Regions from separate parts of the Homo sapiens genome. Here region 1 is linked to region 2. The links come from fine-mapping of genetic effects on gene expression. A gene starts in region 2. The other region holds a variant in brackets. All regions are shown on one strand. Distances are between the middles of the regions. Region 1 overlaps LOC105369709 (a long non-coding RNA gene). Region 2 holds the start of KLHL42 (kelch like family member 42).

What was found.
Region 1: its variant is fine-mapped to the expression of KLHL42 in pancreas (GTEx, PIP above 0.99).

Annotation. Positions count from the first base shown.
Region 1 is chr12:27,806,074-27,811,445 of GRCh38, forward strand. It overlaps LOC105369709 (a long non-coding RNA gene), which reads right to left. Exons shown (of 3, transcript XR_931459.3): 3 at 5,242-5,328. It also overlaps the pseudogene RN7SKP15. Among named protein-coding and RNA genes, the nearest start is that of MANSC4, 29 kb to the left of the region's middle. RefSeq lists an enhancer at 1,382-1,551. The variant T/G (reference allele first, on the strand shown) is at 2,921.
Region 2 is chr12:27,777,903-27,783,274 of GRCh38, forward strand. KLHL42 (kelch like family member 42) reads left to right here and starts at 2,331. Exons shown (of 3, transcript NM_020782.2): 1 at 2,331-3,300. The coding sequence starts at 2,429. It overlaps MANSC4 (MANSC domain containing 4), which reads right to left and starts at 2,334. Exons shown (of 4, transcript NM_001146221.5): 1 at 2,308-2,334. RefSeq lists silencers at 1,933-2,152, 2,173-2,482 and an enhancer at 2,348-2,847.

The DNA of each region.
Region 1 (5,372 bases), 28 kb after region 2:
CTGGGCAGAGTTTCTGATACAAGAACTTTGGGCATAGGACTTTGTGGGCACAATGCAGTGAGAGTCCCAAAGCTAATCTTGGGAGCTTGTTTGGAGGTTCCAGCAGGGGAGCGCAGCTACTCATACACCCTTGACCCAAGACTGGTCCTCCTCTATTGGGGATGGTTGTCCTCTTCGACTGAGCGTGGAGTTTCGGGAGGGACGCACATGGAGCAGTGAGGGAGGAAGGGGTCACCCATCTAGCCAGCCAGATCAGTCGAATCAACCCTGGCGATCAGTGGGGTGAGAGTTGTCACAGGCAGATCACCCTCACATCCCCTAAGCTAGCCTTGATGGGGAAGCTGTTAGTCTTGGTAAGTGAGCTAGCTGGTTGGTTTACAGTGTTATGGAAGATAAGCCTTCTGAAAATACTTGTTCCTGGATACAGCTTCAGCTATCTCTCTCTCAGGGCACACATATTTGTCTCATAGAACAGTTCTTATGTGCTTGTCTTATTCCTCTTCTAGACTGTAGTTTCCTTGATGATAGAGTGTTTCATTAATCTTTTTATCACTCTATGTCAGGACATACACCAGAGCCATGTAACACAGCAGATTCTGGAAGTATTTGTTAAATTGGAAAGGTTTTGAAGCCTCCTTGGGTTTTCTGAAAATATATAGGTTTCTGGTTTATGTAGCCCTAAAATTTCCTTATAGGAAAAAAGTGTTTTCTTGAGGAACAACGGTTATTAGGAAAACAGTGTACTTTTCTCTTCTACCAACGTACATAATGCGTCACGCAGATGGGAGAAGTTTCGAATTCTGGCTGTGGCTGGAAAGGAAGTTTGCCCACAGACAGTAGTGAGGCAAACGCCTAGGAGTTCAGGGGGCCCCGCAGGCAAATGGGAATGGAGCCCCGTCGCTTCATTATTTTCTCATCACTAGAATCAATATTAGGGCTTGAGTGATATTATTGTCACTCGTAGAACTGTTTTTTTTTTTTTCTAAAATCTGAATTGAATGGCACAAATACACAGTTATTCAGAATCTGAATGCCAGCGGAAAGAGATGTAGAAAAGGTAGGCGATGTTGTTGTCAGAAAGTGTGGTCTGACCCCCATGTGGGCCTGTGAAGGGTTTCCTGAGGAAGTCTAGGGGCAGAGATTCCGCTGCTCAGGCTACTTTCAGCCCTGGTGGATTTCGAGGTGCTGCTGGGTAGGAAGACAAGAAGTCAGAGGCAAGAGATCTAGAAAGAGGCACTGTAATAACAAGTGGTCTGTGGCTGGTGGTGACTTTTCTTATACAATCTGGTGTGTATGTATATGTTTGTCTGTTGGTTTTGTTTATTTATTTGAGACAGAGTCTTGCTTTGTCTCCCAGGCAGAAGTGCAGTAGCCTGATCTCAACTCACTGCAACCTCTGCCCCCTGCCTCCTTAAAAAAAAAAAAAAGATACGCTGATTTTTTTTTTTAAGGAGGTAGGGGGCACCGTTCAGCTCAAAACAGGTACTAAATCTTATCTCAAAAACCTTTTAAAATGTGCTGTTTGCTTCACATGCCATTCATTGAGAAGGGGCGCACTGCCTGAAATGAAGTTTGCTTTGAGTTGCCTACCTTCCCCACCTCCCCACATCCCCATGATGCGTGTCATTTTAATGCCTAATAATGTCATTTTAATAATTACAAGTCTGAAAGAACAGGATAGGTAAATCCTATACCGTTAGCCATAGTTTGATGAGATCGGGCATGTTCAGGGTGGTATGGCCGTAGACCGTTAGCCTTACCTTGATTTCAACTTTTAATGAAAAAACACGGTACCTTTCTTAGCTGAGTGCATGAGTTAGCAGGTACAGATGTTAAATAATGTCTATGAATTCAGTGCTGTCAGTGTTCAGTGTCCCATGGAGGCTAATTTCTGTCACCTTCCAGTACCTGGAAGGTACCCACCAGTCAGGATTTTTTAAAAAACCAACAGACACTGACTCTAGCTGATGAAAGAAAGAAAGAAAGAAAGAAAGAAAGAAAGAAAGAAAGAAAGAAAGAAAGAAAGAAGGAAAGAAAGAAGGAAAGAAAGAAAGAAAGAAAGAAAGAAAAAAGAAAGAAAGAAGGAAAGGAAGGAAGGAAGGAAAGAAGGAAGGAAGGAAAGAAGGAAGGAAGGAAAGAGGGAAGGAAGGGAAGGAAAGAAAAGTTACTAAAAAGATAGGATTTAACTCAATCTTTAATAGGACATGAAAGAAACAGAAACGATGGCAGCTCTGGCAGTTGGGAACTCAAGGACAATCTCTTCGGGGCTCCACCAATGGGACAGAAACTCCAACCCACTTTAGGTCTCGTGCCATGAGCCCTGAATGGAAATGGAAGGAGTGAGCACCCTGATTGTCCTGCTGGGGTCACATGTCCAGCCCTAGGCTGGGGATGGGATGGGGCCCCTTGGGAAGTCTCACCGAGACCGTACCCATTGAGGGAGGGGGATTCTTCAGAGCAAAGCCAAGTGTTCAGTGGTAGAGTCAAGACAGTGTTGTTCTAATCCCGGGAATCACCTGATTCCTTTGTCTTAGGTTTCTTTTTTCTTCTTTGAGACAGAGAAAGACTCTGTTGCCCATGTAGTGGCACCTTCTTGGCTCACTGAAGCCTCTGCCTCCCAGGTTCAAGCGATTTTCCTGCCTCAGCCTCCTGAGTAGCTGGGACTACAGGTGCATGCCACCACGCCCTGCTAATTTTTGTATCTTTAGTAGAGATGGCGTTTCACCTTGTTGGCCAGGCTGCCTGGCCTCAAGTGATTCCCCCCAACTCGGCCTCCCAAAATGTTGTTATTACAGGCGTGAGCCACCATGCCTGGTTTCTTGGCTTTTTTTTTTCTTTGGCTTTTGTTTCTGAGGACCAGAGTCATCCTAAGCCTTCTGGTCTGGGCAGGTCATGGGAAAAAGGAACTCTCCAGGGGCCT[T/G]CTCTGTGACTATTTTAAGAAAATAACACAAACAGACCCAAGGCCAGGGCTCACATTATGGCATATTAGACAGCGTACAAAGGCTGCTGATTTATTCCGTTCTCTTATCTGATAGCCATTAAGGGGAGAAAGAACAGATGGGGAACATTCATTAGCACTGTTTATTATTATCTTCACGGACTATTTCACAGCCCAAACTGTGGCAACTCCATAATCCTTCTGAGGCATTGATTTGGAACACGTTTTATTTTAACCAAGGCAGCCTAATTGTGAGAGAACATTCTACATTTTTTCCCATCTAGTTATTGCCCACAGCAATGCCATCTACATTACCCCGGATTCCAGCCATCTCATGACTTTTGTGGGCCCTCGGCATTTTTGCCTTCATGGGTCCCTTCCTTGGTAAAACAAGATTAAAAATCATATTTTACGACTCTGTATAATGACCAGTATAATCCAGGCTGGACTCATTATTACCCATTCATTATTGTTATACTCATGTTTTTCTTCTTTTTTATATTTTTAGAGACAGGGTCTCGCTCTGTTGCCCAGGCTGGAGTGTAATGACATGATCATGGCTCACTGCAGCCTGGACCTCCTCAACTCAAGCTATCCTCCCGCCTCAGCCTCCCAAATAGCTGGGACTTCAGGCCTGTGCCAACACACCTGGCTAACTTTTGATTTTTTGTAGAGATGGTGGTGCTCTCACTGTGTCGCCCAGGCTGTTCTCAAACTCCTAGACTCAAGCAATCCTCCCACCTTGGCCTCCCAAAATGGTGCTGGGATTACAGGTATGAGCCCCTACACCCAGCTGTTTCTTCTGGTTTTAAAATAAATTACAATGAAAACATTTTTATGGACCTCCAAAAGTATTACAGTGCTTCACCTGTGTGCCTTGAGGATATGGCCCTGCACTCAGTCCATCCTAGACATGCACGCCCTTGTCCTATGCTTAGCATTGTTCTGGAATGATCCAGAATGCTATCCCCAGATATCCCTTTCTGAGAGTTCTGGAGTCAAACGGCCTGGATGAAAATACCAGTTTTATTCTCACTAGCTAGTGACCTGCATTTAACCCTACAGACCTCAGTTTCTTCATTTGTGGTATGCTGGTAATAATGCCAGCTTCCTTATTGGTTTCTTGTGAGGATTACCAGAGAAAATGTCTGTAAACACTTCCCACCGGATCTCACATGCGCTAGATGTTCCATATGTGATAGCTGCATATATTTCTTGTGATCACTACTCCTAGGTCATCAAGGTCATAACCTCACAGAAGGTGCCCCTGAAAGAAATCCAGTTATTTAGTGACTTGCTCCCCTTCCTCATTATCTGGCATGTCTGCAGAAGGGGCTTTGGTGAGGGAGTGCAGGCGGGTCACAAGTAGTCATTGCTATTATTAAAAAAAAAACAAACCAGCAACTCAGCCGGACGTGGTGGCACACACCTGTAATCCCAGCATTTTGGGAGGCCGAGGTAGATGGATCACCTGAGGTTAGGAGTTTGAGACCAGCCCGGCCAACGTGGTGAAACTCTGTCTCTACTAAAAATACAAAAACTAGCCAGGCGTGGTGGTGGGCTCCTATAATCCCAGCTACTCAGAAGGCTGAGGCAGGAGAGTCGCTTGAACCTGGGAGGCAGAGGTTGCAGTGAGCTGAGATCGCACCACTGCACTCCAGCCTGGGCGACAGGAGCAAAACTCCATCTCAAACAAACAAACAAACAACAACAACAAAACAAACTCATACACAGAGAAGTACGGGAGGACTTCCAGATCGCATTTTCTTTGGAAGAGATGCTTGGAAGGAAGAGATCTGAAGCAGTTAAATGGAAGGTTGTGTATTTCCTAGGATTGTTGGTGCCATTGTTGGATTCTGGATTTGGGTGTGGCCACCAAGCTGTCCTGTCACAGTGTAGCCAGCACTGCTGGTGTGAATGCCTGTGATGGAGAGGGAATGCTGTATTCTGGCTCTCTGTGCCTCCGGGCTGGTGGGAAAACGGCCAGACCCTCCACTGCAGCAGATTCATGCAGGGTGATTCGGAGCCACTAAAATGTAAAGAAAGACTGTTTGTTTTCCCAGCTCAGTTTTCAGAGAGGTGAGTAGGTGTTTTCTAGCAGTGCTGATGTTTATTTGTTCTGAAGTCTTTTCTGCTCTGTTGTGGGTCTCAAGCTTCACCGATCTTCAGAGGCAGCTTTGTAAAATGAAGTGGGGTTTTAATGTCTCATACTCCTGGATTTGTTGCATCGCTTCAAAATATTTTCCATCATGGTGCCTGCTCAAAGGTCTCTGTAAAGCATGGTGGTTATTGTCTTTCTGGCACAATTGCCCTTCTATTTCCTTCTGAAGTTTGTAAAGTTATTCGGGCTCTACTGTATAAGGAGCAGGGTCAATCTTACTAGCAGAAGGCTGAAATGAAACGGCAGCTGCTGTGAGTGCTGTGTAGAGTAAAA
Region 2 (5,372 bases):
CAAGACCCTATCTCTATGGAAAAAAAAAATGCATTTTTTTTTGCTGGGCATGGAGGCTCATGCCTGTAATCCCAGCACTTTGGGAGGCCGAGGTGGGTGGATCACGTGAGGTCGGGAGTTCCAGACCAGCCTGACCAACATGGTGAAACCCCGTCTCTACTAAAAATACAAAATTAGCCGGGTGTGGTGGCTCATGCCTGGAATCCCAGCTACTCCGGAGGCTGAGGCAGGAGAATCACTTGAACCCGGGAGGTGGAGGTTGCAGAAAGCTGAGATCGCAGCATTGCACTCCAGCCTGGGCAACAAGAGGGAAACTCTGTCTCAAAAAAAAAAAAAAATGCATTTTTTTTTCTAAAAAATAAAAAGATAAACCTCCTTTCCCAAGTAATAATAATAAACAAAGTAAAAGATGACAACAACACCTCTCTGTGAAGCAGATAAATTTCGTAGTAAGAACCACAAATGTAACCAAACTATGTTGAAAGGATCTCATGTTTCACCTTTGACTTTCTTTTAGTTCTCTGGTTTTTAACCCTTTCTCCTTCCTAAGGTAAAATGTTAGCATGGTAGGATGTATCTTCTTTAAATAGGGGAAATGTACTTATGAAGAAGATATTATTTAACAATCTGTCATTCAAGAAGAAAGCTGAAGCTTGTAATAATAAAAAAAAAAACCAAACACATATTCTCTCCAAGTTAAGGACTGTTTATCATAGGTGGTTCTCAAATCTTGGTTTGGGGTAAGTTTTCAAGGTTTTCTGTTTTTGTTTTGTAAGATAAGAGTGAACACACCCTCTGCTTCCTCCCAATCCTTCTCCCTTCTCCTACCCAAAGATAATCCAAACAATATATTTCTCCCCCCACCCCCTTCCTGGGATGAATTCATTAGCAAGACAAAAAGTCCTTCCTATTATTATTTGGGGTGGGCCTTCTAATTGCAATGTTCAGTGAGAGAACATAGGAAACAAGTGGTCTCTCTTTTCCGAGACGGCGTCTCGCTCTGTCGCCCAGGCTGGAGTGCAGTGGCGCGATCTCGGCTCACTGCAACCTCCGCCTCCCGGGTTCCAGCAATTCTCCTGCCTCAGCCTCCCGAGTAGCTGGGATCACAGGCGCGTGCCACCACGCCCGGCTAATTTTTGTATTTTTAGTAGAGACGGGGTTTCACCATGTTGGCCATGGTGCTCTCGAACTCCTGACCTCGTGATCTGCCCACCTGGGCTTCCCAAAGTCATGGGATTACAGGCGTGAGCCACCGCGCTCAGCCAAACCGCACGTGTGGTCTCTCTTAATAGTCCTCAGATGATGGGGGCAGGGTAGGTGGAGAAAGGGGGTGACAAGAAAAGCTACTTCTTGCAGACATTTATGAGCCAATTTTGTCAGATCTTTTGCGCCAGGATAACATTCCGTAATGGACTGGACTGAAGTAGAAAAGCAATGGCTCATAGAAAACATGGTTTAAAACCAGAAGCCACGTGATGTAACTTTATTTAGTCGGGCTGCGCTTTCATCTTTCTTTTAATAACTTAGGGAGAATAAGGGGCCCCAGTGGCAAATGCAAGCTCCCCTGCCTCCCAACCCGATTCCTCTGAGAACCTGCTGCCATCTGCCTGGACCTCCTGTAAGATGGCTCCTACGCGACCACGCTACCAGAGAATCAGCTCTACGTGCCACCAACATTGCCACCAACTGTCCATAGATCGCCTGCGTGCCTCAGCCCACTGACACTCGATGCCGGACTGGGCCAGAAGGACGACCCCATATTTGATGCCTTTTTGTCTCCCTGGACCAGAGACTCCATCCTTCCCTTTCCTCCCACGCTCATTTCTTTTTCTTTAGCCCGTGTAAAGCAGCGTGGGAGAGAAAACGAATTTCTTCTCCCTGGGGTACCCCGGAGCATCACTGCAGCCCCCAACAAGCGGCGGAGCCGGCGCGCCCCGGGCGGGCGGAGAGGCTGCGGGGACGCGCGCCCTCCGCCTCCCGCAGCTGCGCGTCCGCAGCCGAGGCGCCCGGGCCCGCAGCTTCCCGGGCCTCCCCGAGAGCCGGATCCAGCCGGCAGGTCAGGCCGGCGGCTGGGGTCCCGCGGGCGGAAGTGAGAAGGGCGGCGGGGGAGGAGGCTGCTGGCTGGGAGCTGGAATTCCCTTCCCGCCTGGCGCCGCCCGGGAGAGCCCGCGCGAGGACGCCCGCCGCGCTCCGCCGGCCCTTTTTTGGCGCTGAGGGAAAGGAGAAGGGCAGGGCCGCCGCCTCGCGGGAGCGGGCCCCGGGAGGAGGGGCCGCCGGAGAGGCCGGGCGAGCGCGGGCGGCCCTCACCTCGCCGCTCCTCCCGGGCCGCCATCCCTCGGCGCCCCGCCCGGAACCGGCGCGCGCGTAGGGGCTGGGAGGCCGGCGCGCAGATCTGGCGGTGAGCGCTGCCGCCCCGGGGCCCCCAGCCATGTCGGCCGAGGAGATGGTGCAGATCCGCCTGGAGGACCGCTGCTACCCGGTGAGCAAGAGGAAGCTCATCGAGCAGAGCGACTACTTCCGCGCCCTCTACCGCTCCGGCATGCGCGAGGCCCTGAGCCAGGAGGCCGGCGGCCCGGAGGTGCAGCAGCTGCGCGGCCTCAGCGCGCCGGGCCTGCGGCTGGTGCTGGACTTCATCAACGCCGGCGGGGCCCGCGAAGGCTGGCTCCTGGGCCCGCGCGGGGAAAAGGGCGGCGGGGTGGACGAGGACGAGGAGATGGATGAGGTGAGCCTGCTGTCCGAGCTGGTGGAGGCGGCCTCCTTCCTGCAGGTCACGTCCCTGCTGCAGCTGCTGCTGTCCCAGGTGCGGCTCAATAACTGCCTGGAGATGTACCGCCTGGCGCAGGTGTACGGGCTGCCCGACCTGCAGGAGGCCTGCCTGCGCTTCATGGTCGTCCACTTCCACGAGGTGCTGTGCAAGCCCCAGTTCCACCTCCTGGGGTCTCCTCCCCAAGCTCCAGGGGATGTCAGCCTGAAGCAGAGGCTGAGGGAGGCCCGGATGACTGGGACTCCTGTCCTCGTGGCCCTCGGGGACTTCCTGGGGGGACCCCTGGCCCCTCACCCCTACCAGGGGGAGCCCCCGTCCATGCTCAGGTACGAGGAGATGACTGAGCGTTGGTTCCCGCTGGCCAACAACCTTCCTCCCGACCTGGTCAATGTCAGGGGCTATGGGTCTGCCATCCTGGACAACTACCTCTTCATAGTGGGCGGGTACAGGATCACTAGCCAGGAGATCTCCGCTGCGCATTCCTACAACCCCAGCACCAACGAGTGGCTCCAGGTGGCCTCCATGAACCAGAAGAGGTAAGCACCCCGGCAGAGTGCTGCTGCCTTCTCATTCATTCACTTGTTCATTAGTTCATTACCCCAGTGTTTACTGAGCCAGTAAATAGGGGAGGGTGTGCTGTGGTGGAAATGACATCTTCAGGAATGTTGTTGGCCTTGGCGCTGGCAAAATTCCCAATGAACTAAGAAATTGCGAAGAGGACGTCCCCAGTGAGGTCAAGAAGTGGAGTGGTTTTTTGGCAGGTATTGTGCCTTTAGGTGAAACTGCTTTCTTTGCCTCTGTTCTTGTGAAAAAAGATGTTGTGGTTTCCTACAAGAATACTTTAAAAGAAAATTGCCCCTTAATTTTTAAAAAATTTGTCTTAGTTTTTAGGATTTGATCCTGATGATAATGATACACTGGACAGTAACCTGTAACACTGACTTTGGGGGATTTTTTTCTGATGTCAGTGACTGTGACAACAGAGTCTTCCACACTGTGATACCCATCATGATCAAGAGATAATCACTGGAAATGTATTAACGTTTGCAATAGGGGTTGCTTTTCTTATTTTTTATCCTCTCTTTTGCTTCCTTCCCTGGACAGCCATCGTCATGACCCACAGCTTGAGCCTGGAAGTGTTCAACTACAGAATTGGAATATTTTCATTTACGCAACCTTCTCCCCCTCCCATCCTGCAAATCTCTCCTGCCTCCAACAAGGGTGACTTGAAGAAAGGAAGAGGAGGAGCTTGAGGAGTGGGATGAGAGGGGAGAAGGGAAAGGAACCAGGGAAGGAATATCAAAACAAGAGCAAAGAGCATATACAGGAAGAGATGGTAGGAAATAAAGATGGTAGCGCCTAGGAGGCCTCAGCGTCATTCAGAAGCAGGGAAAAGAATCAATGTAACTCAAGAAAGGATGAAAATACCCTTTCTTCCCATCCACGTGTTTCCATCTCAATCCTCACAGGGTCCTGGTCCTGAAGTGTGGAGCAAGGAGTTGGGGAGCTCACAGCTGGGCAAAGAAAGTCTTAACAGTAACAGAGAATCCTTTATATATCTGTTTATTTGACTCGAGGGTCCTCCTCGGCCAGGGATTATTTGGGGGAAATAACTGGCTTTATTTCTCCTATAATATGAAATTCATTTTGAAAAGTATGCTTTTTCCCCTGATAATACATAGTTACAGAAAACTGGAAAATGGAAAAGAATGAAGAAGCAAAAAGATGATTATTCCTACCCGCTCTTCCTAGAGGCAGTAACCAGGTTGGCATATTTCCTGCCAGCCCATTTTTAATGCATTATTTACACCATTGAGATGATACCATATTTAAAATTTGGTATCAGAAGTGTTATTTTAAAACAAATTCTATGCACTGTAATTGAAACAACAAAGGAACATTGTGTGGCCATGGGTGGTGGTCTGATTAGGGGTGGGCGGCCCTGAGTTCTCTCACTCCTCTTGCATTCCTCTAGCTACACATCATTTGGTGCTCACCAGGCCATCCTTAGTGCCACAGTTCCTCACACTTCTTTCTTCCCTTCATACATCCTTGGTAGTCTTTGTCTTTTTTTCTAGGAAGGCCCTTTTCATCCCCTTAAAAAAAAAAAAAGCATTCAAGTAATGCATGAATGCATGATTCTTAGAAAAACTGCAAATTACACACAAAACTGTGGAGTAAAAAGAGTAAATGTCTGCCCTCAGGGTACAGAAAAAAAGTGTCAGTGTATCAACAGACTTTTGTTACCTTTAGATATTATAAATGTATAAACATTTATACTGTAAATTATATGTATACTTGTATAAATACAGTTAACCCTTAAACAATGTGGGGGCCAGGGACACCAAACCCTGCACAGTCAAAAATCCCCATATAACTTTTGACTCTCCCAAAAACTTAACTACTGAATAGCCTACTGTTTACCAGATGCCTTACCAATAACATAATCAATTAATACATTTTGTATATGTAGTATATACTTTATTCTAACAATAAAGTATGCTATAGAAAAGAAAATGTTATTAATAAACTAAGGAAGAGAAAATTAAGCGGAAGTGGATCATCCTTATCATCTTGACGCTGAGTAGGCTGAGGAGGAAAAGGAGGT